4 linked regions of the Homo sapiens genome follow. The protein of the gene in region 3 purifies or fractionates together with the protein of the main gene of each other region. This does not show direct contact. Each region holds a gene or a part of one and is shown on either strand. Other genes may lie near its edges. The genes, in order: ATP11C, LAMA4, BCAM and TMEM11.

Region 1 (8,798 bases), on a different chromosome or scaffold from region 3:
TTTTTAATGGGTAATGTACGTACTAGCCCACAAAGTGTAAGAGTGTGTGTGTGTGTGTGTGTGTGTGTGTGTGTGAGTGAGAGAGAGAGAGAGAAATAAGTGGTCAGTATAGTCTTACTTCCCACTTGAAAAATTGACTTATGTAACTTCTTTACATCAAACAGGTTAACTGGCTGGGCATGGTGGCTCATGCCTATAATCCCAACACTTTGGGAGGCCAAGGCTTGAGCCCAGGAGTATGGGACCAGCCTGGGCAACATAGTGAGATGCTGTCTCTACAAAAATTACAGAATAATTAGCCTGGTGTGGTGGTGCGTGCCTGTGGTCCCAGCTACTTGGGAGGCTGAGGTGGGAGGATTGCTTGAGCCAAGAAGTTTGAGGTTATAGTGAGCTATAATGGCTACTGCATTCCAGCCTGAGTGACAGAGTGAGACCCTATCTTAAAAAAGGTTAACTTAAATGAGAAGCGTTCTTAGTTTGATAAAATAGTCACTTTTTTTTTTTTTTCCTGAGACAGAGTCTCACTCTATCACCCAGGTTGGAGTATAGTGATGTGATCTCAGCTCACTGCAACCTTTGTCTCCTGGATTCAAGCAATTCTTGTGCCTCAGCCTCCCAAGTAGCTGGGATTTCAGGTGTGTGCCACCACACCCAGCTAATTTTTGTATTTCTAGTAGAGACGGGGTTTCACCATGTTGGCCAGGCTGGTCTTGAACTCCTGAGCTCAAGCAATCCTCCTGCCTCAGCCTCCCAAAGTGCTGGGACTACAGGCATAAGCCACCGTGCCTGGCCAATAGTCACATTTTTTTCTATTCATCTTTTACATTTGAGTAGATCTACCTTAGACATGTGATAGCATTTTGGTGTCTTTAAAAATACTCATTTATTCCTCATTTCTTTGGTAATATTGTCTCTGTAATTCCCTGACATTTGACAAGAAGTCTTAGAAGGGGTGATTTCCTATGGATATGAAAATAGCTTTGCGTTACAGCAAACTAAAAATTAGTCACACTGAAGAAACTAACAATATATGTTTGTGTCCTTGTTTTAGGTGGATTATGTATTTACAGATAAGACTGGAACACTCACTGAAAACAGCATGGAATTCATTGAATGCTGCATAGATGGCCACAAATATAAAGGTGTAACTCAAGAGGTTGATGGATTATCTCAAACTGATGGAACTTTAACATATTTTGACAAAGTAGATAAGGTGCATTTGCATTATTGTTTTATATAAGAAACCAATCTGTGTATGCATGTTAACATTCCATAGTAGAAAATAATTTTTAGGTGGACACATGACATAGACTTTTGTGTTTTTGTTTTTTTTTTTTGAGATGGAGTCTCACTCTGTTGCCCAGGCTGGAGTACGGTGGCATGATCTCAGCTCACTGCAACCTCCGCTTCCCAGGTTCAAGCGATTCTCCTGCCTCAGCCTCCCGAGTAGCTGGGATTACAGGCGCCTGCCACCATGCCTGGCTAATTTTTTTGTATTTTTAGTAGAAACGGAGTTTCACCATGTTGGTCAGGCTGGTCTCAAACTCCTGACCTCAGGTAATCCACCACCCTCCGTCCCCCAAAGTGCTGGGATTACAGGCATGAGCCACTGTGCCCAGTGACTTTAGAATAACTATTGTTGGATTCACCTTTCTTGTTTTACTGACACTTCTGAAATTTGTAAATGAGTAGAATTTACAAGTAAAGAGAATTGTGGGAAATGACATTTGGGTAAAAGCTTGCTTGTCTGTATGATCATAATTTTTTGTGCTTTGTCTTTTAAAATGTAAGCTCCTCCAAGAATGATGTCTGTTCAAATGATTAAAGTCTCAGGAGTGTCTAGGCATTAAATTAACCAGAGTCTCCCTACACTTGAGCTATTGCTAGATTGTGAATTAGATACTGAATGAAGTTTTTTAGGCCATGAAGAAGTCACTGCTTTGGCTTAGGTGGTGCCACAATAACCTTAATGAGTTAACACAGCCTATAGGGTATGCTAGCTGAGAACCAGGAACTCTTATTAGGTACTAGGAGAATATATAGCAGATTTGAGTGTTAAGAATTTATACGTATCTGCTACTAAGTTTGTTAGAAGTTACAACATTCTCTCACATTAATATATTTTCTCCGTTCACTGCCTAGTTACCGGGTGATCAAATTAAAAATAATAATCATTATTTTGTTGCTGTTCCACAGAATCGAGAAGAGCTGTTTCTACGTGCCTTGTGTTTATGTCATACTGTAGAAATCAAAACAAACGATGCTGTTGATGGAGCTACAGAATCAGCTGAATTAACCTATATCTCCTCTTCACCAGATGAAATAGCTTTGGTGAAAGGAGCTAAAAGGTAAAGTATACTTTCTTATACTTCTCCTAAGAAAGTGAAATCACAGGAGGACAGAAGTTATTTGTTTTTTTCCGTTTGCTTCAGTGACCTTAGCACATACATCTCCTATTATTTAATAAAAAACACAACTGCTTTAGCCAAAAATTTGTGGAAAATTCCCACACCTAACCAGTTAAGACTAAAAAGAAAATAGTTACAGGTAGGTATTACTTGCCTTACTATTTATGCATGCCAGCCAGAAGTCTGAATGTTCATACTATGTTTTGCAAATAACATAACAGTGGCCACTTTTTGTACAACACATGTTATTTCTGAGGTGCTCCCAGCAATTTTGACATCATTTGAGAACCGAAAGTCCAGTTTTACCCATGAGGTTCAAGATAATTAAGTGGCTCAAAGGTCACCCAGTGTGTTAGCCGTAGAATCAGAAACCCAAATTGTCTCTCCCTTGGTTACAATAATTGTGGCTGGGCATTGACTTTCTCTGTTATCAACTTATCCAGGAAAAGAAAGTACAGTTATATGTTGAGATCATATGAAAGAGAAGAAAAGCATAAACAAGCATGAGTTACCCCATTGAAAGTAATCATTCTAGACCAGGTGCGGTGGCTCACGCCTGTAATCCCAGCACTTTGGGAGGCCAAGGCGGGTGGATCACCTGAGGTCAGGAGTTCAAGACCAGCCTGGCCAACATGGTGAAACTCTGTCTCTACTAAAAATACAAAAATCAGCCGGGTGTGGTGACACACACCTGTAATCTCAGCTACTCAGGAGGTTGAGGCAGGAGAATCGCTTGAAACTGGGAGGTGAAGGTTGCAGTGAGCCGAGATCGCGCCACTGCACTCCAGCCTGGGCAACAGAGCGAGACTCTGTCTCAAAAAAAATAATAATAAAAAAATTAATCATTCTTTAGAGATACACAAGGTCTTTTTTATTGTTTTTGATAGGTACGGGTTCACATTTTTAGGAAATCGAAATGGATATATGAGAGTAGAGAACCAAAGAAAAGAAATAGAAGAGTAAGTAGCTCTGTGTTTGATGTTTGTCATTTCTTAACCCCATAGTCAAATTTAAGTGGATTCAGGCAGGGCAGCAAAGGAAATGATGCCACTAAAAATACAGGACCCTGCTCTCCCAGTTCAGAGTTTTATGTAAATATAGTTGGGGTAGAAGCCATGTTACATAGAATTGCAGAAACTGGAGTTTGAGGTGGAAATTCCAATCTGGTTCACATCTGGGTCCAGTAGCCAGAATGAGAGTTTGCCTGGAATGTTTCTCAAATTTAGATGCCATTTCAGGTCTCTAACACATGCTACAGGAAAAATCAGTGAATATATGTGAAACCTTCTGCTATCTAGTGTCCAAGCAATCACTCTGGGATTGCAAGCCCAGGCAATAAAGGCAGCTTTGCTGTAAACCAGAAGCCTTGTTTGGTTCGGAATGTTCAGGTGTGAGCCTCGGGGCAAGTACTCTGATGCTCCAGTGTCTTCACATTTCCTCTTTTGCCACAAAGACCCTAATGAACAAAGCCACCTTATCTTAATGGTGGATTTTAATTAGGCTCTGTGATTAATTTGAATTTCCTCATCTGAACTTGAAATATAATTATGTTATCTGACTTTCATTCTGGCCCCTAGGATCTCCTGAGACCCATCTCAGAAACCTGTAATATGTTTACAGGTACTTGGGTAATGCACCCTTTTGGAGAGAGATTCATAGAAGCCCAGAGGAAGGTTCTTGGTCTGACTGACAGGGACCCAGGGTCATTGTCAGAGTTTAGATTCTAGCCCATCTGCAACAGTGCCCACATCTGGCCAACAGCAAACCAGATGCCATGTTAGATGTCTTATACATATACTCCCGCAAGACTAATGACCCCCTCACTCCCACCAAAACAAGCTATGTAGTAAATACTTTTTTTAAAAAATACTAGTTGTTTATTTTCAAGGAAATATTTCCTCTCACTTTTTCTAATAACCAACTCTTATTTTAACTCTTCTGTGTCTCTCCATTGATTAGTTCAGCCATCCACACACACATTTGACCAGTCTCATCATGTCATTCCACTGTTTAAACCCTTTTATTGGCTTTCTTTTGCTCTTACAATACAATCCCAAATTCCAGAAATGGCTCACAAAGATGTGTTTCCAGCCCCTGCTTACCTTTCTTGCTTTATCTCTTACTATTCCCCTATTGATGAGTTTTTTGGGCATTGGTGAACTACTTAAAGTCTTCCATGGGCCATGTGCTCTCATGCTGCCGTGCTCATTCCCTCTACTCAGAATGCCATGGCCCCCTTTCTTCATCATATTACCCTTGCAGAACCCAGCTCAGGCATGTCCTCTTCCAGGAAACCTCCTTTCAGATGACTTCCTTCTGTGTTCTTATATCTTCCCTGTAAGTGCCTTTATTACAGTATTTGAGAAACTAGAAGGGTAGTTATCTCATTATGCTCTGTCTCCCTTATCATATGGTGACCCGCATAAGGGAAGGGACTCAGGCAGATTCACCTCTATTCCCCAGCACCTAGCACTGTGCCTGGCACTCCATACATAAATGCTGCTAAAATAATTGGCAGAGTGGGACTGTTTCTAGACCCCTCCAAATATGGCTTGGTGGGACAGCTCTTTATCTTCCATTTTTATGTGGTCATTCTCCTTACCATTTTAAGTAATATACTGAGGGGCTATAAATACCCCTTAACTAACACTGGTGTCCTCTGACAGCATGTTCTATGTTCAGAGAAATTCTGAGACAAAGGAAAGTACCAGTTGTGCACACAACCAGTGCTATCTGTTGATTTAAGATGTTTAAATATCTTAACATATTTCTGTTGTGCTTTATTTTTCTCAGTATATTCTAGGTTTTTTACTTTGCTCATTTCTCTTAAAGATATGAACTTCTTCACACCTTAAACTTTGATGCTGTCCGGCGACGTATGAGTGTAATTGTGAAGACTCAAGAAGGTACATGTCTGAAAAGCTTGAATTTTTCTCTTTGTTGATTTGTAGGCTTATTGGTTGATTCACTCTTTCAGGAAAGAGAATCATTTCATGTAGTAGTGTAGGATTAGTGAAAGTCATGCAAAGCAGTAGCTTTTGCATATGCTTTCATGTATTTTTTTAAGCACAGATGTTCTGTTTACCAAATTGTTAGTGACAGAACCCTTGTTATGACAGGGTGTGCCTTTTCTTGGTAGCAGAACCATATCCCTCTGCCTTGGGTGTTCGAACAGGAACTGAAAGGATGACTTTTATATGGTTCAGGGTACTGACCAGTCTACCAGTAATGTTTACATGCAGCCACCCAGCATAGTTGGATGGTTTGGGATTACTAGCAGCAGAATCCTTGAGTATAGGGAGTTGCTTGTTATCCCTCACTGACCTTCCTGGTTCCCCTACTGCTTGACACTCCCTGGAAACAGGTGAGGTAGAGAGGACTAAGGGCCTGGTTTCTGGGAAATGGCATTGCAGTTTCACTCCAGAGCTCAGGTTCTTTGTTGAGCAGAGTAAAGCTTGCCCTTTGCAGGGGAACTGGTACTGTAATCCTGGGCTCCCTCATGTCTTTGGAGGCACCATGGTGGTTTGCCTTCTGCTCAGATTCTGCAAGACCCATGGGCGAGCAATCCTGCTTTATTCGAAGGCTCTCAGATACGTGTGTGTGTGGTGTGCCGAGGTGGTTTGTTTTCTAAAAATTTTTGATTTATTTCCCAGTAATTTACGTTTTACTATTAAATTTTCTAAATTCCTTAATGTCAGAATGGGAGGATACAGACAGATCCTTGGGGGAACATATCCCACTTAATTCATACTTTGTGGTGTGATTGCAAAGTCATGAAATTGATTTTAATAAGTGACCATGGAGTTTGTTTTGTGAATTTTAAAATACACTTTGGATGTGTAAGAATAAATGAAAAAAAAAACACAACATTTCAAATACTTGCTATTCTTATGTGTGCATGTCCACATGTTCTACAGCAAATGGTGAAATGTCTGTGGAACTGGTCTACAAAGGTCATTGACCTCAGAGCTACACTTTTTAATTTGTTGACCTCGGTTGTTTCCCTTATAAGGATAAAGTGTCTGTCTTAGTGCACAACTGTGAATATTTCCTGGGTGTGTGAAGTGATCTAAAGCTGCAATTATACCAGCATTCTACAAAGCTATTCTCATCAGTAAAAACTATCAAGCCATTGTTTTAGAAGCTAGTTAATATAGTTTATTCAAAATTATTTCAGCTTGTTTGAGCTTGAGCTTTCTTCTTGACATCTGTAGATGCCATATGTGTGCTCTAGGCCATGGCTTCACTGCATTTTTTTTTTTTTAAGACACGGTATTACTCTGTCATCTAGGCTGGAGTGGCAAGATTATAGCTCACTGCAGCCTTGACATCCTGGGCTCAAGCAATCCTTCCACCTCAGCATCCAGCGTAGTTGGGTCTATAGGTGTGTACCACCATGCCTGGCTAATTTTTTAATTTTTAGTAGAGTCAGGGTCTCCCTGTGTTGCCCAGGCTGGTCTTGAACTCCTGAGCTTAAGTGATCCTCCCACTTCAGCCTCCCACAATGCTGGGATTACAGGCATGAGCCACTGCACCTGGCATACATTTTCAGAAGAAATTCAGATGCAGCTCCTTGACACAAGCCCAGCCCTCCATGAATTGGTGGGAGGAAGTATATTTTAACAGAGGTGCCTATTGTAAACTCTGGCTTATTAATTGTGTTCATAATGACCTTGAAGAGGTGGTACATGCCTTTCTGACAGACTGAAGGCCAAGATTTCTCATTCCATTTAGGTGAGTATTGCAAGGTGTGCTCAGAATATACAACACTTGGGTGAGAGAGACCGCTTTAAAAGTTACTCTTACTAAAACCACAATACCAGCCTTAAAATTCTAAGTCAAGTACTATGGTTCTTTATTTTAGGAGACATACTTCTCTTTTGTAAAGGAGCAGACTCGGCAGTTTTTCCCAGAGTGCAAAATCATGAAATTGAGTTAACTAAAGTCCATGTGGAACGTAATGCAATGGTGAGCCTATACTCCTTCCCCCACCAATAAGTAAGCAGAGAAATGTTGAAAATGACTATGTTTATTGGATTTCTGTTTAAATGACAGTTTAAATACATTTTAGCTTATTTTTGTGGTCTATGTTTTGTATTTGGGGATTTGATAATATTACTTTTTTTTATCTTAATATAAAACATTTTCCTGGAGCAAGTTTCAGGTCAGAATTTGCAGCCTTAAAAGACTTTTCAACAACCTTTGTTAAAAGAACTGTTACTTCCTTTTTCTGAACCTAATTGAATGTTACCTTTTCAGTTGTAATTTCTTCATTTTTTCAGACTAAATATGTGTCAGAATTTCTCTTGTCCATATGGCTAAAGCAAGAGTATTTACAGAGTGTGTTTTTTTTTTTTTCCAACTATTATTAGAATAACTACAGATCTCCTACTTTACTCCTAGGATGGGTATCGGACACTCTGTGTAGCCTTCAAAGAAATTGCTCCAGATGATTATGAAAGAATTAACAGACAGCTCATAGAGGCAAAAATGGCCTTACAAGACAGAGAAGAAAAAATGGAAAAAGTTTTCGATGATATTGAGACAAACATGAATTTAATTGGAGCCACTGCAGTTGAAGACAAGTAACTAGAAAATGATACTCTTATTATTTTAATGACCAGTGTTTTGGGTGTGATCTGCCCCAGATTAGTAATTTAATCTCGAAGTTTGAAATCTTTAGTTTTATTGTTTAAGTGGACTTAAAGATTTATTTATTATAGCAAGTATGAAAAATTACACCAGATTTTGAGCTGTTAGTAGGAATGATTTTTTTTTAATTTTTTAATTAATTTTTTTTTTTTTGAGACAGAGTCTCGCTCTGTCGCCCAGGCTGGAGTGCAGTGGCGCGGTCTTGGCTCACTGCCAGCTCCACCTCCCAGGTTCACGCCGTTCTCCTGCCCCAGCCTCCAGGGTAGCTGGGACTACAGGTGCCCACCACCACGCCCGGCTAATTTTTTTGTATTTTTAGTAGAGATGGGGTTTCACTGTGTTAGCCAGGATGGTTTCGATCTCCTGACCTCGTGATCTGTCCGCCTCAGCCTCCCAAAGTGCTAGGATTACAGGCGTGAGCCACCACACCCAGCCAGTAGGAATGATTTTTAAGGTAAATTCATGTAACCTAGAAGAATGAATCAGTTTTCACTCAGGTCTTTTGAATATTTACTAAGCTATCCATATATTTATGCACATATTATCAAATAGTCTTGACATGTTTAGGGAAGGGTACTACAGCCATTGTTTGAGCTGGTGCCTAGACAAAGGGGTAAGATTTTCAGAGATAGGTGAGCTGAAAGGAAATTTAAGGTAGAGTGAACAACATGAGAGCTTAATCTAACCTGGTTCAACAGACCAGAGTATGTTTTTGCATGCTTTATTTTATTTTATTTT
Region 2 (8,798 bases), on a different chromosome or scaffold from region 3:
TGTCACCACAGTTTAGATCTAATCTTCAGCTTTGCAGTGGTGGTTTCAAAAATTCAGTTATCTCACCTAATACAGGTATGAAATAAAGTATCTGGGATGAGAGAGGGGGTGAGACTTCGGAGAGAGTATGAAATCTGATGAAGGGGGATAAAGGAAAGGTCGAAGAAGATGGGAAGTTGATCTAGGGTTCCAATTTCAGGACTATTATTACTAGTTATGGGCACATAATTGGAATTTATCTGAGAATTATTTTCCCTCTCATTATATGAGAACAAGAATACCTACCTAACAAAGCTGGCGCAAGGACTGATTTTTGTCATGAATTCACTGTACAGCCTATGACCAGCACATAATCTATGCTCAGTAAATCCCACTTTCTCTGCTAAGATTTGCACAACTGACAAGTTACGCCATATCTAAATGATTTGGCATAAACACACTCGGGTCTAGAAAGATATTTCCACAAAGGGGTAGGTCTCCTTGACCTACTATTAGTTGCATTGTCTGTTCTGTGATGTCTGAGTAAAATATGACCATGAGACAAGTGGTTTTACTTTTTCTATTGCATAGCTCCCTACCAGCTTAAACCTGCCTGGCTTTGTTGGCTGCCTGGAACTGGCCACTTTGAATAATGATGTGATCAGCTTGTACAACTTTAAGCACATCTATAATATGGACCCCTCCACATCAGTGCCATGTGCCCGGTAAGAGACAGTTAAGAGTACTAAAGACTTGGATATTCATGCAAGAGCAGCAGATAGAACAAGTATGAGTCAATATTCAGGTTCTCAAACTTTTCTTTGGGGAAGCCAGTTTTGAAACTACATAAGTCATACCTGCAAAAAACTCTTCACCTGTTCTCTATCATAGATGAGCATGCCCAAGTATGAAGTGTTAAACAACTTGTTTGCAGCCTTGATTAAGGATTCCAGAGACTAGGGTGTCCCTGGAGACTTCAGTTGTCTTAGCACACAGGATACAGAAGAAAACAATCCATTTAACATACCTACAAATACCTCTTTATCTCTTCCTTGCAGACAACAGGACTTCATTTAAATGTTGTAAGGTCCACAGAAGATGTTAGAAGAATGGGTTAAAAGGGCTTCACTTGAAAAGCATAACAGAAACTGTAGTGTTCAAATGACCGTTGTGTTTCCATTTCAGAGATAAGCTGGCCTTCACTCAGAGTCGGGCTGCCAGTTACTTCTTCGATGGCTCCGGTTATGCCGTGGTGAGAGACATCACAAGGAGAGGGAAATTTGGTCAGGTGACTCGCTTTGACATAGAAGTTCGAACACCAGCTGACAACGGCCTTATTCTCCTGATGGTCAATGGAGTGAGTAAAAATACAAGTCCTACTACTTCTCCTTTATTTCCTTTACTTTCTGCTACTCATGTTTCCAGGAACCTTCCCAGGTCTAGTGTGTCATGCCATCAAACTGAAATTCTAGTTTAGAAAGTCAAATTGGATTTTCTTCTTCAGGAAAGTAATGACAGCAATAAATAAAAGCAACCCTGAGATGCATTTCCCCACAGTACATTTTTGGATATAAATAAACTAAGAGAACTTTGAGGAAATTAGAACCAAGATCTAGATGAGCAGGGTGTCTGCAGAAATTTTGCACTGGGCTCCTAACTTTTCCAAACCATATGCCCTAATCAATTTTAAAGCAAAGCTTGCATGCTTTGTATATATGTATGTGTGTATGTAAGTATATATGTATGTACACACACACACATATATATCTTTGTTTATAAATGATACATGTGTACTATAAACAGATATAAATATAGTATGAAACAGTCAAAGCTTGTAATAAAGGACAAATTATATAAAGATAAAATAAAAGATTATATATTTAAAATGAAGATTAAATTGACTTATTTATTAATGATACAGAAATGTTTTTCTCACTAAAATTATTTTTAATAGTACTTTATCTACTGTACAGCTCAAAGAAAATAGTTTTAGTGAGAAAATGTAATTAAGTATGCTAAATATTTTCAAAAATCCTTAAACTCTTTGTGACACAGTGATTCAAAAGTCTTGTCCTAAGTCCAGTTTATTTCAACAGTAATTTTATTGGTGGTTGTAACTAGACAAGACACCTCACAAAAATAAAAAATGAAAGAACCATATCATTAGCTGTGCCTACTAACTCAAATAGTTTTCAATCACATTCACCAAGTGGCAAAGGTTGTCTTTGAGATTTGATTGGTGTATTTCCTTTTTTCTAATATTAGTTCTTGTAAGCTAACCAGGTATCATTTTGTAAACTTTAATAAAAGGGTTCAAAGCTATTGAAAATCTTTATTTGAAATATTTTTCTAAAGGTTAGAAATTTCTTCCCTCAAATGTTTTAATAGAGCTGATAGGAGAGTTTTTGTAGGATTGCATTTACATTGTTCCCATCAACAAAAGCAACAATAGAAAAATTCCCAAACATATTTTTTAAAAACCATCTCTCCACAGTATAACCGTCCTCAAAAAAAAGGAGAAAAAGTTACTTTCTCATCCATTATTATGATAATACCCTTACATTGATGTGACAGTATGTTTCTTTTTTGAAATAACTAGTAGGATTCATACTACTGTCAGACATTTGTCATCACGAATAAAGTTCAACAAATTTAGAATAATTCATGTTACAAAGAAAAATGTGTAACCCTCTATAAACTTAACAGCATTTTCAGAAATTTGTAGGAAGTAGCCAGCAAATATCTGTGTGTCTCAAAATGTTTTCACATCACTCTACATCTCAATACAAAATGAGTGTAAATATTCTATTATTTCGGTTATATCAGCCTTAAATCCATATAACTAGCCACACGTAAACTGCAATAAATTGCAATAGGCTAGAAGCAAAGAAATGGATGAGGAGCTACCTTCAACTCTTCAAGTGTGGAACCCCTCTTGGGAAGCCACACATATTATGTGAATTTTGTGAAAGTCTGACAAAAGGATAAAATGAAGGCCCAGAGTCAATAATTCATGTGTTAAATATTAAAAGTTAGTTTCTTTCTCTATTTTAGATTTTTTAGTGAGTATAAATGGATGTTGAAATATTTTCTTCTCTATTTCAGGTTTTTTTAAATTAGTATAAATAGAAGTTGAAATATTTTCTTCCTAAACTCCAGTAGGCTGCTTTCCACACTCCCAGGAATGTACAAACTCCACTCAGGAGATCACTTCCTATAGAATAGGGACCTTGCCACAATGCTTTATTTTTCAAATCCATTGACTTCTTGTATCTATGAACTATCTTCTGAAACAAGCAAAACTCCAGTAAATTATTTGAGTGTTACAAAATTTCTTTGATTCTTAAACATCATGTGTTCCAAGTGCATAATAATTCTATATTTATTTACATAAATCCAGTGTTTCAAAACAATACAGCAATGGCCTTCTTTTTTTAAATCCATATTTGCTGATAATATGGAAGAATTCTTTTCAGTATACCTTGAAATTATTTTTTAATTTTACTAATTTTCACCTAAAATAAATGCAGACACATCTGTTGGCCTGTTATAATTTTTAAAAGTTTCCTAAAGACAAGGCAGTTGAATAAACATGGTATACTATACTCTATTTTCAAGATTTTCTTAAAAGGCAATAATGTAGACTTAAAACTTCATCCATTAGTTCAGAAAGTAGAATGAAAACAGAAGAATTTTTACACTGTGTATAAATATTAACTTTTATGTATTAATAAGAGAAATAGCTGCTGATATGGAAGTAGTTGTCACTTTTTTTTTTTTTTTTTGAGACAGAGTCTCGTTCTGTAGCCCAGGCTGGAGTGCAGTGTCACGATCTCGGCTCACTGTAACTTCCACCTCCCGGGTTCAAGCGATTCTCTTGCCTCAGCCCCCTGAGTAGCTGGGATTACAGGTGCCTACCACCACGCCTGGCTAGTTTTTGTATTTTTAGTAGAGATAAGGTTTTGCCATGTTGGCCAGGCTGGTCTCAAACTCCTGGCCTCAAGTGATCCACCTGCCTCGGCCTCCCAGAGTGCTGGGATTACAGGTGTGAGCCACCACTCCCAGACACTGTCACTTTTATTTCATAAGAATTTCATGAGACTTTCTTAGTCTTCAAATAGTTCCAGTAATAAAGAATACAGTCTTATTTCTCAAATTCAGCTAAATCTGACTCTACTCGCATAACAGATGTTCCTATCTTACAATTCCTTTCTCTCCTCAGAGTATGTTTTTCAGACTGGAAATGCGCAATGGTTACCTACATGTGTTCTATGATTTTGGATTCAGCGGTGGCCCTGTGCATCTTGAAGATACGTTAAAGAAAGCTCAAATTAATGATGCAAAATACCATGAGGTACAAATCATTGTAGTTTGGTTGGTTTTGTTTTTGTTCTTTATACTTAGATCTGTTGATCTAATCAGGCAGTCAAATGAGACAGGCAGGATGGTAAATAAACTGAGAACTTTCATATCTAAAGAGCAACTGAAGGACCCTCATCTTCTCAACCCTAGGAAAACATTTACTTTAAAACATTGGATGTATTTTTCCTGTTGATGTTCCAATTTAAAAGTCACTGAAAGATTCCTTTTAATTGCTTAATTAACCAGAAGGCTTCTATTAATCTTAAATATCTCAATTGGTATTCCTACAGGATACTTCTATACATTTGTTGAATGAGCCAGAGTGTAGATACACAGCCTTTTTTTGCTTATCCTTTGAGCCCCACCAAATTTAACAAGAATACATATAAGTAAATACAGAATTTCCTTTTAAACCACTTATCCAGAATTTAGAAAATACTAGCACAGTTTTCCTTATAAAGAGAACTCACAAAGAATCCCCTTTAGTTTTGAAACAGATGTGCAGACTACTGAAAATATACTTCATCCATTTTCATTAACTATTTTAAATATACAACTTAATAAAGTGTATACAAGGCATAATATCTTTTAAGTTGAACCAAAATGCGAAGGGTAGGAGACTGTATTTCCCTTTTCAGTTCAAAGTCCATAGCCTCATGAGAATGGTTTACAATAAAAGAATATTTTAACTATTTCTCTGACTAGCATTTTTGCAGATTCATTAGAACTGCTCACTGTGTCACCAAAAAAATTACACCTGGTAACATGCAATCTAGATTCCAGAAGGCACCTGCTTGGGAATACAATAGGGGTCACCAGGGGTTAGGGGATAGGGAAATAAGAAATTGCTGTTCAATGTGTATACAGTTTCAGTTGTGCTAGGTGAGTAAGTTCTCGAAATCTGCTGTACAGCATGGAGCCTATAGTTAAAACTAATTTAAAATTTATTTAGGATAGATCTCATGTTAAGTGTGCGTAACACACATGCTCACACACACACACACACCACAAAGGGACACAAGGAAATGCTGGGAAATGTGTGATATGTCTCTTACCTTGATTGTAAGATGATATGAGTGTTTGCATATGTCCAAGCTCATCAAATTGTATACATAAAATATGTGTAGTTCTTTGTATGTCAACTAGACTTGAATAAAGTTGTTTTTTTAAAAAAAAAGAGAATGGTGGCACCTGTTTATAGTTCTTTCCTGAATCCTCTCAGAAGGAGCAGGAGGAAACAATAGGTCTAATCGCAAAATTTTTCTTGGGCTGGCTCCTCTTCATACAGACCTCCTTTCCCAGAAAGTGTGAACTGCTGCTTGTAGAAGCAAGAGTTTTCAAGTCTGTGAGAAAAGAAAATCTATCTATTCCCCATTTTGTGAACAAACAAGCACAAAGGCATGGAAGAACAGCTAGTATACCAGGAGAATTAAAATATATAGAAGTCATCAAAGAACTGAATATTAAATAGTTAATCAAGGCTTACTATATATTATCTCTCCCAGATCTCAATCATTTACCACAATGATAAGAAAATGATCTTGGTAGTTGACAGAAGGCATGTCAAGAGCATGGATAATGAAAAGATGAAAATACCTTTTACAGATATATACATTGGAGGAGCTCCTCCAGAAATCTTACAATCCAGGTAAGGCTTTTTGTTAAGTAGCTGTTTGTTCCTAGCAATGTACTGGGCTGGCAACATCCAGGAGAGGTCTAGTAACAGTGTACGCACCCTTACTTGCTACTTTTACACACAGGGACAGGCACAGGTACACACATTCATGTACCTTCAGGCCCTCTGCAGTCAGTCCTCAGGACCTCCTGAAATTAGCATCGCATAGATGTAATCACAGATTTCTTCAATTATTGTATTACTCTTAGAACATGATCTAATGCAGTATTTCTCATCAATAATAGGAACGGTGGAACATGTGTATTGTGTGAAGACAAAACAGCATTTGTCCATTTACTTTTGCTTTAGCCTTAAACCCATTTTGAACTCTCCAATAGCATCTGAGCTACACAAATTTTTAAGGTTATCCAAAGGGTTGTGTATTATGTATAATGAAACATTAAGACACTCCCCTAAACTTTGTTGATTACAGATGTGTTGGAAATAATGCCAAAATGGATTCATTAATGACGTGGATTAATAAAAGTCTGAAGACCTGTGTTCAAATCCTAACATCACTTGTGACATAAGAGAATAATTTATTTCTTAGTTTCATTTCTTAGTTTCATTACGTTAAACCCTGTGAAATTACTAAGAATTGATTATATTTCTGTGTAACATGTTAGTTCCTATGATTCAACCTAATAATCGTCTGCTAAAGGGAAATCATAGCATCTCCATCTATTTCACTGAATTGTTATAAAGATAAAATGAGATAATGTAAGTTAGAGCATTTTGAAAACTGTAAGGAAGAAATTGGCTTGACGTAGAACAAAACTCTTCTATAGGCAAAGATTAGACATTGCTGTGTGCCTATCAAAGAAAGCATGAGAATATGAATGATTATAAAGCCATTACAAATGACTATAAATAAATGCAAATTCCATAGCCTACATATGCAGGGTAACATCATCATCATGGCTGTATCAGTGAGGCTGACTTTCTTTTCCAGGGCCCTCAGAGCACACCTTCCCCTAGATATCAACTTCAGAGGATGCATGAAGGGCTTCCAGTTCCAAAAGAAGGACTTCAATTTACTGGAGCAGACAGAAACCCTGGGAGTTGGTTATGGATGCCCAGAAGACTCACTTGTAAGAACCACTCAGTCAAAAGCTTTTTAATAGACACAATACTTATCACTCTCAAAAGCTGGAAAAGTTCTTTTCAGCTTCTCTCTGATCCTAGGTACACCTTGGGTTCCTTTCTGCCACCACCAGAAAGAAGAACCATTAAGCTAGAAGGGCTCTTGTGCATGGGGTTCCTCTGTGACTTGTTCGTTTGCTTCAGTTTTCCATGGGTGGGGCATCTAACACCCAGAGAGGGTGTGCTAGCATCATTGTTCACTCAGGTTGGAGTCAGTGGAGAAGATGAAACCCCATCTCTCAGAGGAGCTCCTAGTGTATGCCTGAATTCCAACATAGACCAGAAGTGGGAAAATAAACTATTTACGTAGAAATTAACAGGCAAGGCCTTCCGTATGTGAAACATTGATAGTTTTAAGCATTTGATAATTCTCAAAAACACTATCTCCACTTGTTCTGGCACACAGATATCTCGCAGAGCATATTTCAATGGACAGAGCTTCATTGCTTCAATTCAGAAAATATCTTTCTTTGATGGCTTTGAAGGAGGTTTTAATTTCCGAACATTACAACCAAATGGGTTACTATTCTATTATGCTTCAGGGGTAAGTGTTTGTTTTTCTCTGAGGAAACTTCTTTGTGATAATTGTTTTGCCTATTAAAAATAATTTGTAATGCATGTTAGAAGTGATTTTCTATTCAGATTAATTTTGACTCACACGTAGACACACAGAATGCCTCATTTCAAACACTTTATAAAATATTCTATGTATTGTATATCAGAAGTTCCTAACCTGGAATTCATAGACCCACCCCCAAGGGTTCATGGATAGAATTCAGGGGGGTCTGTGGACTTAATGCGAAAAGATTACATCTTTATTTTCTCTCACTGAAATTGATCATTTTCTTTGATTATGACTCTAGGCAACACACCACAGTAGTATTACCAGTACCTGTGACTTTGTCATTAATAGAAATCACAGATTTTTTTGTTTCACATTACAATTGTCACAGAAATCTCAGAATGTCATTTTTGCTCATTGCTACTTCTAATGTTATTAGGTCTGCTATGGAATCTTATTCTTTAATGCCTTAATAAAAAAGTTATAATAATATCACAGATTATTTTAATATTTTGAAAACTGTATTTCAGTATGATTGGTTTCCTTTGTATTATTATATGTTTTGTTTTATACATTTAAAAACATTATTTTGTGAAGCGGTCGCTATCTGTTACCAAAATGCCAAAGGTGTTTCTGGCACAAAAATTCTCAAGAGTCCCTGTTTGTATGCAATGAACAAACACATTTGTGATTTAATTTATAAAAGAGTAAAAAGAACATACATACTTCTCTTAGATTTGCTACAGAGCATTTGAGCTCAGCTTATAAAGATACGTTATTTCAAGAATAAACTAAGGTCTGTAGAGGATTGGTGACTGTAAGATCCAACTGATGGGTCTCTGAAAAGGTCATCATCAATATATACACTGATGTGCCAGGTCATCACATAACTTCTGAAAGCAGCTTTCACTTTTCATATATATTACCTGCATCTGACACATTTATATCCAATTTAATTGGAATCAGTAGAATTTGTGAGAATTTACCCAAAGCATTTTGTAGAACTTCTGACCCAAACCTGCCTCAGACTACCCTGGTTAGTTAAATAACACTTTTTGCCCATAAAAAGTAGTCTAT
Region 3 (4,617 bases):
GCCTGACCAGTGGATGTTTTAAAGAGGTCCCTCTAGCTGCTCAGTGGAGGATGGACAAGAGGGAGGAGCAGGCTAGTGAAGAGGTGGTTGGGACAGTCAAACCTGGGGCCAGAGGTGGCAGGAAGCCAGAGGATTTGTCCTGGGAGCAGACCAGATAAAGACTTGCTGAGGCCAGGAGCAGGGGCTCACGCCTGTGATCCTAGCACTTTTGGGAGGTCAAGACAGGAGGATCACTTGAGGCCAGGAGTTTGAGACCCAGCCTGGCCAACATAGCAACACCTTGTCTCTATTCAAAAACAAAACTTTGCAGAAAAGATGTTTGGGGGTAACAGGGAGGTTACCCCACAGGTTGGGGTTTGAGCAAAAGGTTTGTGTGCTAAAGTCACAGAAGGGACACCTTCCACACCTAAGGTTATTCATTAACCTTGGGCTCAGATGTCAGCTCTGAAGAAAAGTAATTGACTTGGGCATGTCAATGTTGGGGTTAGACTGCTAGATTTTTGGTTGGAGAGCCTGGATGGGAGAATGGAGATTTCATGGAGATGGGGTAAACCAGGAGGATTACTTGCTGTTCTCTGCTTCCAACTGTCCATTCATGTTTGCACCCCCGACCGCCCCTGGAGAGCCCCTAATTGAGTGGGTGGCGGTCTGGGACGAGTGACAGACTGTCCCCCACTGCAGATCTGGACCCCCTGGAGCTCAGCGAGGGGAAGGTGCTTTCCTTACCTCTAAACAGCAGTGCAGTCGTGAACTGCTCCGTGCACGGCCTGCCCACCCCTGCCCTACGCTGGACCAAGGTGAGAGGGAGAGGAGCCCCCTCGGGCCCTGCACTCGCACCCTCCTCTCTCCCCTCACTCCTCGCCCTCTCACAGCGTCCTCCTCCTCCTCTGCCCTTCCCAGGACTCCACTCCCCTGGGCGATGGCCCCATGCTGTCGCTCAGTTCTATCACCTTCGATTCCAATGGCACCTACGTATGTGAGGCCTCCCTGCCCACAGTCCCGGTCCTCAGCCGCACCCAGAACTTCACGCTGCTGGTCCAAGGTTCAGGGGGCAGGGAGGGGGTGGGCTTGGATGGGGACAGTGTGGGGTGTGGGACCTGGACAAACAGGACGAGTTCCTGAGTCCCTGGCTGGGGACTCCATCTTCTGCTCGATGCCTCTCTTCTCTCTCTCTCTCCTCTCCCTTCACTTTCTTCCCATCCCCACCACCCACAGGCTCGCCAGAGCTAAAGACAGCGGAAATAGAGCCCAAGGCAGATGGCAGCTGGAGGGAAGGAGACGAAGTCACACTCATCTGCTCTGCCCGCGGCCATCCAGACCCCAAACTCAGCTGGAGCCAATTGGGGGGCAGCGTAAGGGACCTTCCTCTCCACCCTGAGCCCCCTCTCACTCATCCAAGTATCACACCCTCCTTTCCACTTCCTGGGAGACTGGACGTCGTTCACCTCTGCCCTTGACCCCACCCCTTGACCCCACCAGCCGGGGCCTGATCGGAGCCTCCATAGCCCGCAGAGCCAATCCCCGGACGGCAGGGTTGGGTGAGCAGCTCTCTGACCCTGAAAGTGACCAGCGCCCTGAGCCGCGATGGCATCTCCTGTGAAGCCTCCAACCCCCACGGGAACAAGCGCCATGTCTTCCACTTCGGCACCGGTGAGTGACTGAGGTGGTGGCAGAGGAGCCGGGTGTGGGGCAGACAGAGCCCACTGCCTGACCCACGCCTCTCTCCATCCTGTCCCTGCAGTGAGCCCCCAGACCTCCCAGGCTGGAGTGGCCGTCATGGCCGTGGCCGTCAGCGTGGGCCTCCTGCTCCTCGTCGTTGCTGTCTTCTACTGCGTGAGACGCAAAGGGGGCCCCTGCTGCCGCCAGCGGCGGGAGAAGGGGGCTCCGTGAGTGGCCTGCTATCTGCAATGACCACCATAGCTTAACCCCATCCCCACCCTCAACCCCAAGCTCAACCCATAACCTCAACCACATCTTATCCTCCACCCCACATCCCACCACATCCACCTCCATCCCCAACCCATCCTCATCCCCAACTACAGCCCCAAACCCAGCCCCAGACTAATCCACAGCCATCCCCAACTCATCCTCATCCCCAACTGCAGCCCCAAACCCAACCCAGGGCCATCCCCAAACCCATCCCCAAGCCAAACTCAACACCATCCCCTTCCCTAATCACCTCTCCTGCCCCTAGCTCAGCCTCATCCCCAACTCCATGCCTGTCTCCAATCCCAACCCTGCCCCCAATCTCCCCTCAACTCCAATCCATAACCCCCTTCAAACCATCCTCAACTAAGCTCCTCTCCAGCCCTGGCCACATCCCCATCCTCCCCCAACCTCCAGCCCCAACACCCATCATCCCCCTGAGCTCACCCTTAACTCCAATTTATCCTCCAAGCCTATCTCTCACCATCCAGCCCTCACCTAGCCATTTCCCAACCCTAGTCCTCCACCGTCCCGAAGCCAACTTCACCCATGTCCCCATCCCCAATCTTGTCCCCATTCCTGACTCCAAATCCAACCCCTAAGCCTCCCCAAGCTCCTCCTCATCTAACCTTGTCTCCAGCCCCAACCACATGGCCGTCCTCACCTCCAATCCGTAACCATCCCAGACCGATCCCAAAGCCAACTCCAGCTACATTCCCACCTCCAACCCCAATAGCATCTGCATCCCCATGCCCAACCCTAACCCCAGTGCCATTACCAGCCCCTACCCCATCCCTATGCCATCCCCACCCAGCACACCCCCATCCTCACCTCCATCCCCAGCCGCATCCTAGTCCCACCCACCCCCATCCTCAGTTCCTCCCCCTGCCGTGTGCACCTCCAACACGACGCCTCCGCCCGCTGCCTCCTCCCCCCAGGCCGCCAGGGGAGCCAGGGCTGAGCCACTCGGGGTCGGAGCAACCAGAGCAGACCGGCCTTCTCATGGGAGGTGCCTCCGGAGGAGCCAGGGGTGGCAGCGGGGGCTTCGGAGACGAGGTGGGTGAGGGCCTGGGCCCCCTGGTGAGAGGGACCTGCTGGGCAGTGGAGCACGCCCGTGGGCACAGGCTGACCTCTCCATCCGCTCCCCAGTGCTGAGCCAAGAACCTCCTAGAGGCTGTCCCTGGACCTGGAGCTGCAGGCATCAGAGAACCAGCCCTGCTCACGCCATGCCCGCCCCCGCCTTCCCTCTTCCCTCTTCCCTCTCCCTGCCCAGCCCTCCCTTCCTTCCTCTGCCGGCAAGGCAGGGACCCACAGTGGCTGCCTGCCTCCGGGAGGGAAGGAGAGGGAGGGTGGGTGGGTGGGAGGGGGCCTTCCTCCAGGGAATGTGACTCTCCCAGGCCCCAGAATAGCTCCTGGACCCAAGCCCAAGGCCCAGCCTGGGACAAGGCTCCGAGGGTCGGCTGGCCGGAGCTATTTTTACCTCCCGCCTCCCCTGCTGGTCCCCCCACCTGACGTCTTGCTGCAGAGTCTGACACTGGATTCCCCCCCCTCACCCCGCCCCTGGTCCCACTCCTGCCCCCGCCCTACCTCCGCCCCACCCCATCATCTGTGGACACTGGAGTCTGGAATAAATGCTGTTTGTCACATCAACACCATCCTGTGGCCAGAGCTTCCTCTGGGAGTAGGGAGGGGAAGGGCGATGCAGGTGATTCCCTGCTCTCAGCTGCCCCCCCATCCGCCCCCTTGCAAGACCTCAGAAGACGCCTGATGTCATGGAGAAAGAAATGAGACAGGGCTGGGCGCCGTGGTTCATTCTTGTAATCCCAGTGGTGGTGGCTCACGCCCGTAATCCCAGCACTTTAAGAGGCTGACACTGGAGGGTGGCTTCAGGCCAGGAGTTCAAGACCAGCCTGGGCAACATATGGAGACCCCATCGCTACAAATAATAATACTAATAATACAGAAATTAGCCAGGTGTGCCTATAGTCCCAGCTATTCAGGAGGCTAAGGTGGGAGGATTCCTTGAGCCCAGGAATACGAGGTTACAGTGAGCTATGATCACGCCATTGCACTCCAGCCTGGGTGACAAAGCGAGACTTCATCTCTAAAAAAAAAGAAGAAAACAAAAAGAGGCCAAGCTCAGTGGCTCAAACCTGTAATCCCAGCACTTTGGGAGACCAAGGCAGGGGGATCACTTTAGGTCAGGAGTTTGAGACCAGCCTGGCCAACATGGTGAAACCCCATCTCTACTAAAAATACAAAAAATTAGCCAGGCATGGTGGCGCGAGCCTGTAATCCCAGCTACGTGGGAAACTGAGGAGGAGAAAATCTTGAACCCAGGAGGCAGAGGTTGCAGTGAGCCGATATCGCACCACTGCACTCCAGCCTGGGCGACAGAGCGAGACACTCCGTGAAAAGAAAAGAAAAAGAAATGACAGCATGAGAGCGAGTGAGCACGCAGAGGGCGACTTAGCTGGCCGGGGGTGGACGGAAAGATGCCAGGTCCCGAGGGTGCTGGGCTTGGCCCCCGAGGACCAGCGTCTGCCTGGAGATGGGTGCTGTCCCCTTAAGTAAAAGTTCCCAGTCTGTCTTGCCAGAGCCCCAGAGGGAATTGAAACTGGGCGAGGAAAAGCTCCCTCTTAGCTGTAGAGTCAATAGAATTAGGGATGGAGCCACCTCCTCTGGGGAGGA
Region 4 (8,506 bases), on a different chromosome or scaffold from region 3:
TTCAAGATGCCCACTTTATGAGTGCCTGCAAGCTATCCTGAGGCGGCAGAGAGCGGTCCCATTCAGTGTCTGCAGCAGTCCCCCTGAGGTGCTGGAACGGGCTGACCCCTGCTCCCAGCACTAAAGGCTCAGAGAATCCAAAGCTTCCTCAGTGCTGGCATGATGTGTTTAGGATCATGACACTGATCCTTTTACTTTTCTTCTTCCATATGTTAAGACCCACTTCCGACAGTGATCTTTAAGTACCAGAGATCATGCCAGATTCAAAAGGATCAAAAGTCATTTACTAGAAAGAGCCTCCCTTCCTTTTCTTTCCTGAGCCCCTCAGTTCCCTCCCTAGTGACCAGTCATAAAAATCAGGTCTTTGTGTATCCTTTCAGAAGTGTTCTGTGCATATAAAAGCAAATAGAGACTTTTAAAAATACACTACGTATAGCATACTGTAAACACTCTTCTGAACCCTGCCTTTTCCCCTGAACTTGCTTTCAGTTGGAGACTTTGCTGTTACTGCTGCTACCTTTTTCTCTTTTTTTTTTTTTTTTTTTTTTTTATTGAGACGGAGTTTTACTTGTTGCCCACGCTGGAGTGCAATGGCATGATCTCAGCTCACTGCAACCTCCGCCTCCTGCGTTCAAGCAATTCTTCTGCCTCAGGCTCCCAAGTAGCTGGGATTACAGGCACGTGCCACCAAACCCAGCTAATTTTTGTATTTGTAGCAGAGACAGGGTTTCACCGTGTTAGCCAGGCTGGTCTCGAACTCCTGATCTCAGGTGATCCGCCTGCCTTGGCCTCCCAAAGTGCTGGGATTACAGGCATGAGCCACTGCACCTGGCCACTTTTTCTTTCTTTTTTTTTTTTTTTTTAAACATAGACTCTATTAATTGCTCTCTTACTGGTCATTTCACACCTGCAATGAAAAGCAAAAATACAGTCCCTTAGGAAGCCCAGGGCTCAAAAGATTCCAACTAGCTCTTACTTAAAAAAAAAAAAAAAAGTCCATATAATTTAAAAAAAAAAAAAAAAAGGAAAAAAAAAGATCTCCCATGCACCAGGGTTCAGATCACCCAGTTCCTAAAGCCCATGGCCTTACCAGTTAGGGGGCAGCTGGTGATGCTCTGCAGTGGTTTGAGATAACCTTCTGACTGGGTTCTTTCCTTCATTAGGTTTTGTTTGACCCACAAGCAGAAGCAAGCCATATACGGGTGGCTGCTGGGTGGTCAGGAGCTGGCTGGACGTGGCTGTCTCCTGGGAGTACTTGGCAGTTTCTTTTTTCTTTTTTTTTCTTTTTTTTCTTTCTGTCATTCAGGCTGGAGTGCAGTGGCACAATCTTGGCTCACTGCAACCTCTGCCTCCCAGGTTCAAGTGATTCTTGTGCCTCAGCCTGCTGAGTAGCTGTAATTACAGGTGTGCAGCACCGCGCCTGGCTAATTTTTGGTAAAGACGGTTTCACCTTGTTGGCCAGGCTGGTCTCGAACTCCTGACATCAAGTGATCTGCACACCTTTGCCTCCCAAAGTGCTGGGATTACAGGCGTGAGCCACCGCACCTGGTCATGGCCACGAATTTCTGAAGTAAGAGAAGTGCAGCAGTCCCTGTCAGCAGTGCAGACCTGAACCCAAGGGCCCAGCAGTGGCAGCTAAAAAACCTGTGTCTGCACTGACAGCACCCCACTCCCACCAGTGTACCAGGAAGTTGGAGTGCTGACTGCCTGGTCGTGGCCGGGTGAGCTCCAACGGAGGGATCCTGCGGCTTTGGGTGCGTCTGTGTGTGTTTTGGTTTGAACCTTACCGTCTCCATATAGGGTCTGTTGCCTTATAGAATCCTAGAAATCCACTTCCCTAGACTTCACGTGTTGTCCTTTCCCAGTGGAAACCGAGATTCCCTTTGCCTAACTGGCTTTAAAAGCAGAATTGGTGAGCCTCTGGCCTCAGCGCCGTTGTGCAGGACCCTGCCTTTGTTTGAAGGCAGTGTGGCTTATGTCCTTTGTGTTTCTGCTGTGGATAGGTGTCTTAGACAGTGGGCAGCAACAGTGCCCAGCCCATATGAAGACGCCGAGGCTGCAGGAGGCCGGGGCCATGGTTTGACAGGCAGGTGGGGGCAGACCCACGCCACCATCTCAGGATGTGTGCTGGCGAGTGCCCCCATGTCCACGTGCTTGCTTATGGCTGTGTCATTCACAGGACTGCCCACAGCCGAGGGCAGAGGATGCCCAGTCTCCTCACTCCCTGTGCTGGGGGGCGGGCCACACCTGGCAACAGCAGTGAGGTGGGAGGGAGCCTGGAGGGCCTTGGCTTCTCGCTGCTTCCAGGCTGGTTGGGACTCGTGGACGCACCCACCCATCCGTCCCAGCAAGCGATGGAGCCTGCAGAGGGGTCTGGGTGGATGTGGGTGCCAGCTGGGCTTGCAGGGGGGCCGGAGGGGGTGAGGGGGTGGGATCTGCCCACTGCTGTGTTTCCAGATGGGGCAGTCGGTTCCAGGACCGGGGTTTCCACTGGAATTTCCTCTGTGGGACCAACAGTGGTTTTCACTACATTCAGGATGGCGCTGGCCTGCTGGGCAGAGAAAGGTACCGCACTAGGGTGGATTTGGGTGTTGGCGAGAACATTGTGTAACCCCAGCTTGACACCTCCCTTTTGCTTTGAGTGTTCCTGAGGGAGGAAGCCCGCCTCTGGTGCCCGCCCCAAGGTGTCCCTGGCCTGGCTTTGACAGTCAGTAGGATGCACAGCTGACTTGGAAGCAACTCCATTTCCGTCTCAAGATTGGGACACGATTTGGTCCTCCACCCCTACCTTGTTATCTGGCCTCTCTGCTCCTGTTGCCTGATGGACTTGAGACCAGAAGGGAGTTCTCTTGGCCAGGAGTGCTCCCACCTGAGAGTGGAGGCCCCGCCCCTCCCCGCACACCCAGGGCCACAGCCAGCCCATTGCGCCACCGCCACTCATTTCTCATCTGAGCACGTGGGGGCACTGCTCGGCCTTCAGCTTTCCAGCGCCAGTGAAGACCCTGCTTTGGGTGTGCTTGTTTGCTGTAGGTAGCTTCTAAAATGCTGCATCTGGCTGGATGCGGTAGCTCATGCCTGTTAATCCCAGGACTTTGGGAGGCCAAGGCGGGTGGAACACTTGAGCCCAGGAGTTCGAGACCAGCCTGGGCAACATGGCATAACCCCATCTGTACAACAAAATTTTTTTAATTAGCCAGGCAGCCAGGCGTGGTGGCACATACCTGTAGTCCCAGCTACTCGGGAGGCAGAGGTGGGAGGATCTCTTGAACCCGGGAGGTCGAGGCTGCCATCAGCAGAGATCACACCACTGCACTCCTGCCTGGGTGACAGAGCAGGAACCTGTCTCAAAAATAAAAACTGTTGAATCCTACCTGGAAGTAACAGCTGGCCTCTCCCTTACCTCTCCTCTAAGACCAAATGGAAAAACTCCACCGAGAACTTTAGAAGGAAAACCCTCCTTTCCCCATTTCATAAGCTGCTCGTGCAGTCTTACAGTAACAGCTCATCATTTCATCCCTGGCGAGGCAGCCGTGACACTGGCACAGTCACAGGTGGCTTGGCAGCAACCCATGTTTAGGAGGCTCTTGTCCCACCCTCAGGGCACTGATTTCTCCCCAGTGCATGCCGTTTAATTAGGGCCTATGATTGAATTAGGAGGCTTTGCCTTAGCCTGGCTTAGTTACAGTGACTTTTTCAGGATAAAGAGTTCCGTTTGCCCAAGTCCAAGCCAGTGCCTTTTATGAAAGTGGTTCCCACCCAGGGGCGGGGTTAGGGTCCCCATGCTTGGGGGCACAGTCAGCCCATTACCAATGACTTTCATCTTTAATGTGGCCACATGAGATCGTTAACTAGTTGTTTATCCAACCAGAATGCAACCCTGCCTGTTAGGTTTGCTTATTTGTTTGCTGAAAGCTTTGAGCTGGGAGGAGTCTCAGTAGTAGGAAGAACTACGATTGCCTGTTCTTTTTCCTTGAAGTTTCCCGACAGTCCGATTTCCACCATCCTTCACTTGGAATTGCTCCCATCTTTGAAGGAGGCTGGAGGGAGTTACCTTCATGCTGGGCTGAGGTTCTGGGGTGGCTTGTTATGAATGTCTTCACTCGTCACTCCCATATTACGGCCAATGGCCAGGTGGCTCAGCTCCCCATGACTCTCCTCTGCACCGCAGCCAGGTGTGCCTGCCAGGACAGGCTGGGCGGACGGGACCTTCGCGTCTGTGCACACTGAGGGCTGTGCTTCTCGTTAGCCATGAAAGGAAGCTAGTTCCTGTCAGGCACATTCGGAGCTTCAGGTACATGGGCCACATTGACCCTTGTGTTGCCTGGTACAGTGTTCCAGAGCCTCCCAGTTGGAAGGGCATGGACTCCAGCAGGGGAGCAGTGACCAGCAGGTCCCTGGAGCCTTGTGTCCTTTAGTCAGATGGGTCCGACCATCCTGGGGACCAGGGTGTGCTGAGGGAAGGGGCAGCTTTTCCCTGAGGCATGTGACAGAACATGGCTCTGTGCAGCCTTGGGAGCCATGAGTTGGAAAACTTGATCCAGCCTCAAGAGCTATGTCTAGCAGTGTCCCCGTCAAGGCCCAGATAAAGACTTCTTGCAGATGAGCAGATAACGGAAAACTAGGATGTGGGGTGACGGTGCGGAGATTCAGAGAGATCTGTCTCAGCTGAAACCAGCCAAGGAAAGATGACAAGGCATGGATAGCCCTGTCTTCAGGCCTGCCCGCCACAGGTGAAGAAGATTCTGCTTTGGGTGGGAAATTTGTACCGCAGAGGCCTGAAACCAAGAAAAGCAAGACTGCCTGAAATGCAGCTTGGCCCACGGTCACTGCTGGGGCTGCAGCCGGGCTGCCGTCTGGCCTTGCTGCAGAGCTGAGCGTTCCGTGTGGTGGATTACTCTCCTGCTGGTTGGGGTCATGACATGCATCCCCAGTCCCGGGGGGGAAAGCCCCTTGTGTGGTCTCCGTGGCAGTGTTTCTTATGCAAATGAGTGGCATTTGCCGGTGGTGCAGGGGCCTGGGCCTACAGGGCCAGAATTGGTGGCATTGCTGGGCTGGATGTTTTGAAGCCCCTCAGTTGACCCTCCTGCTTACTAAATTTGGAGCCCACTACTGTTCTTGAAGCGTTGTCTTTTCCTAATTCAAGGAAAGGGTCGCTTTTCCTATGCAGTGGGCTAGTGTCCTGGGTCTCCTCTTCTCCCCTCCGCAGCGGGGAGGAGCTGGGGGCTGCTGCCGGCCCAGGAAGGGCACCCAGGGCTTGTGCAGCCTGGCCTCCAGGAGAGCCAAAGGAGTTTGGATTTCATTCGCCCAAGGCAAAGCTCTTCCTTTCTGCCTCTGTTCTGCAGGCCCAGGATGACTACTTAGGAAACGTGCGGAGGGCAAGGGCTTAGCATTATCTGTCCTGAGGTCTGTGGTTTCCAGTGAAGAATCCTCTTGCAGTTGCCCTGATTAACTAAGAATGGCTTTCAGGCTGTTGGCCCTCTGCTGCCGTGTGTGCTCCTGTGATTCTGTGCCGAATCGTTCTTTCCCCTTTAGGCTCCTTTGCTGACTCAGATCAGTTGGTCCACAGCCTTAGGCTAACCACCAGGCCTGTGTTTGTCATGTTAAACGTCGAGGCACTGCTTTTCCTGCCTTTTTATATCTTTTTTTTTTTTTTTTTTCTGAGACTGAGTCTCGCCCTGTCACCCAGGCTGGAGTGCAATGGCACGATCTCGGCTCACTGCAAGCTCCGCCTCCCAGGTTCAAGTGATTCTCCTGCCTCAGCCTCCCGAGTAGATTACAGGGATTATAGGCATGCGCCACCACACCTGGCTAATTTTTTTTTGTATCTTTAGTAGAGACAGGGTTTCACCATGTTGGCCAGGCTGGTCTCTAACTCCTGACCTCATGATCCGCCCCCCCGGCCTCCCAAAGTGCTAGGATTACAGGTGTGAGCCACCACACCCAGCTTTATTTCACTATTTTCAGGAAAAATCCTTTTTACTGATTATCTTGTGTTGGGATTTAAAGGAGATGAGGACCCAAGTGAGATGTGCTCTCCGCAGTGCAGGCTCAGACCTCCCCCAGCGCTGAAACACAGTTAAGTGCTCCTCAGCCTAATCATCCTGTCTCTCTCTCTCTCTCCCTTTCCTGCCCCCTCCATCAAAAGGGTGAGCTTGTCGGCCACAGACTGCTACATTGTGCATGAGATCTACAATGGGGAGAATGCCCAAGACCAGTTTGAGTACGAGCTGGAGCAGGCCCTGGAAGCCCAGTACAAGTACATTGTGATTGAGCCCACTCGCATTGGCGACGAGACAGCCCGCTGGATCACCGTGGGCAACTGCCTGCACAAGACGGCCGTGCTGGCGGGCACCGCCTGCCTCTTCACCCCGTTGGCGCTGCCCTTAGATTATTCCCACTACATTTCCCTGCCCGCTGGTGTGCTGAGCCTGGCCTGCTGCACCCTCTATGGGATCTCCTGGCAGTTTGACCCTTGCTGCAAGTACCAAGTGGAGTACGACGCCTATAAACTGTCGCGCCTGCCTCTGCACACACTCACCTCCTCCACCCCGGTGGTGCTGGTCCGGAAGGACGACCTGCACAGAAAGAGACTGCACAACACGATAGCACTGGCCGCCCTGGTGTACTGTGTAAAGAAGATTTACGAACTCTATGCCGTATGATTTCAGTAGAACAGGGAGCGAAGCAAAACCACCCGGCCCACAAGAGACAACAGAGTATTCAGATCGCCACACTCTGTGAGGCAGCAGAGCCTGGGCAGGTGTTTGGCTTAGTATTTGTTATTTTTAAAAAATAACAGATCACGGGTGTACCCAGGGTTTTTCAGCTCATTACACTAAGATGTGGATTTCCATAACCCAAGAGGGGGGTCTGAGGCTGTGGAAGTCCGACTGGGCAGTGGAATGCTGATGGAGGCAGACGCTGCCGAGGGGGTGTGGACGTGCTTTGGGGGAGGTCTTTAAGTCTATTGTTTAACTGTACCATCCAGAGCCCACCAGAAGCTATTGATCATTAAAATTATGAGAATTTCAACTCCCGCTGTTCTCTCTTTCCATGACTGCCCGCAGCTGCTGCTGCACATCTGCTCTGGGTGGCGGCTTGCACATGGAAGGAGCAGGTGCCATGGTAGCCACCCTGCCCTGCTCCTAGCTGCGGCCCAGTGTTACCACTTACAGCGACGACAAGCCTAGATCCAAGGTAGTCCTGGGGCCAAACCCCGCCCAGGAGCAGTCTCCTGGCTCACCTTGGCCTCATCATTCCGAAGGCCATCACTGCCACCATGCTGTTCAGGAACATGGTAGGATAAGGTGACGAGGCTTGGAGGCCTTTGGGTGTCCACTTGAGTTCACGTGGGGAACTCTGGGCTCCAGGATCGCTCTTCAGAGATCTGAACACCTGTGTTTTCTTTGAAGCACCAAAACTCTTCCTACTGTGGACCATGAGTTTATTAACCCATTGCCCTAGGCTGACAGAAGAGCCCTCGGAGCAATCTTGGAAGCACCCCCTGGCCTCAGTGCTCGCTGTTCCACAGGAGCCAAGCCGGTGCTTCTCCCTCACACCAGAAGGTAGACTGTGTCACCTGCCACATTTCCTCTAAGGCAGGGGTGGCCAATCTTGACTTCCCTGTGCCACATTGGAAAAAGAATTGTCTTGGACCACACATAAAATACACTAACGACAGCTGATGAGCTAAAAAAAAAAAAAAATCACAAAAAAATAATGTTTCAAGAAAGTTTACAAATTTGTGTTGGGCCACATTCAAAGCCATCGTGGGCTGCATGAGGCCCATGGGCTGCTGATTGGTGATTGGACAAGCTTGCTCTAAGGCTTTGGGTAAATGGGAAATTCTCTCTTCCACAAAAAGGCTGGGGTGCCTGTCTTCACTTCTGCCTTCCTAAAGCCCCATTCATCCCTGAAGAGCCACATGGCACCTCCTTCTGAAGGCCAGTCTTTTGTTTTGTTTTGTTTTGTTTTTGAGACAGAGTCTTGCTGTCACCCAGGACGGAGTGCAGTGATGTGATCTCAGCTCACTGCAACCTCCACCTCCCGAGTACAAGTGATTCTCCTGCCTCAGCCCCGAGTAGCTGGGACTATAGCTGTGTGCTACCATACCTGGATACTTTTTGTATTTTTAGTATAGATGGGATTTCGCCTTGCTGGCCAGGCTGGTCTCTAACTCCTGGCCTCAAGTGATCTGCCCGGTTCGGCCTCCCAAAGTGTTGGGATTACAGGCGTGAGCTGCCGTGCCTGGCCAGGCCAATATTTAAGAGACAGCCAAAGTGGTTTCTCACCTAGTTTTAAAGTCCCCATCAGGAAGACCTGATGTCACAGAGTAATGAAAGGGTGCATGGGAAGGATTCACGAGGGGTGATTGGGCCATTTTTTGTAGGGGAGATTCACACCTCTTAAGGATTTTAAAAGGGACCCACGGCCCACAAAAAGTTTAAGAAACTTTGATTTAATTCCAAGAGATTTAGAAATAACTTATCACTCAGTTGAGTGCTGG

What was found.
Region 1: the proteins of BCAM (region 3) and ATP11C purify together in Homo sapiens (affinity purification with mass spectrometry; 2 studies listed by BioGRID and IntAct, with this or other methods). This does not show direct contact.
Region 2: the proteins of BCAM (region 3) and LAMA4 purify together in Homo sapiens (affinity purification with mass spectrometry; 2 studies listed by BioGRID and IntAct, with this or other methods). This does not show direct contact.
Region 4: the proteins of BCAM (region 3) and TMEM11 purify together in Homo sapiens (affinity purification with mass spectrometry; 2 studies listed by BioGRID and IntAct, with this or other methods). This does not show direct contact.

The regions. Positions count from the first base shown.
Region 1 is NC_000023.11:139,781,742-139,790,539, reverse strand, and holds part of ATP11C (phospholipid-transporting ATPase IG), read left to right. Parts: intron 1-1,051; coding exon 1,052-1,213; intron 1,214-2,196; coding exon 2,197-2,348; intron 2,349-3,295; coding exon 3,296-3,367; intron 3,368-5,240; coding exon 5,241-5,314; intron 5,315-7,272; coding exon 7,273-7,376; intron 7,377-7,811; coding exon 7,812-7,993; intron 7,994-8,798. UniProt on the Homo sapiens protein: Catalytic component of a P4-ATPase flippase complex which catalyzes the hydrolysis of ATP coupled to the transport of aminophospholipids, phosphatidylserines (PS) and phosphatidylethanolamines (PE), from the outer to the inner leaflet of the plasma membrane.
Region 2 is NC_000006.12:112,131,658-112,140,455, reverse strand, and holds part of LAMA4 (laminin subunit alpha-4 isoform 1 precursor), read left to right. Parts: intron 1-570; coding exon 571-704; intron 705-1,164; coding exon 1,165-1,336; intron 1,337-4,201; coding exon 4,202-4,333; intron 4,334-5,846; coding exon 5,847-5,989; intron 5,990-6,968; coding exon 6,969-7,107; intron 7,108-7,565; coding exon 7,566-7,703; intron 7,704-8,798. UniProt on the Homo sapiens protein: Binding to cells via a high affinity receptor, laminin is thought to mediate the attachment, migration and organization of cells into tissues during embryonic development by interacting with other extracellular matrix components.
Region 3 is NC_000019.10:44,817,841-44,822,457, forward strand, and holds the end of BCAM (basal cell adhesion molecule isoform 1 precursor), read left to right. Parts: intron 1-681; coding exon 682-797; intron 798-900; coding exon 901-1,042; intron 1,043-1,215; coding exon 1,216-1,352; intron 1,353-1,505; coding exon 1,506-1,650; intron 1,651-1,741; coding exon 1,742-1,886; coding exon of another isoform or gene 1,887-1,890; exon of another isoform or gene 1,891-2,864; coding exon 2,865-2,982; intron 2,983-3,075; coding exon 3,076-3,081; 3' UTR 3,082-3,581; downstream 3,582-4,617. UniProt on the Homo sapiens protein: Transmembrane glycoprotein that functions as both a receptor and an adhesion molecule playing a crucial role in cell adhesion, motility, migration and invasion.
Region 4 is NC_000017.11:21,196,480-21,204,985, reverse strand, and holds the end of TMEM11 (transmembrane protein 11, mitochondrial), read left to right. Parts: intron 1-6,145; coding exon 6,146-6,662; 3' UTR 6,663-7,032; downstream 7,033-8,506. UniProt on the Homo sapiens protein: Plays a role in mitochondrial morphogenesis.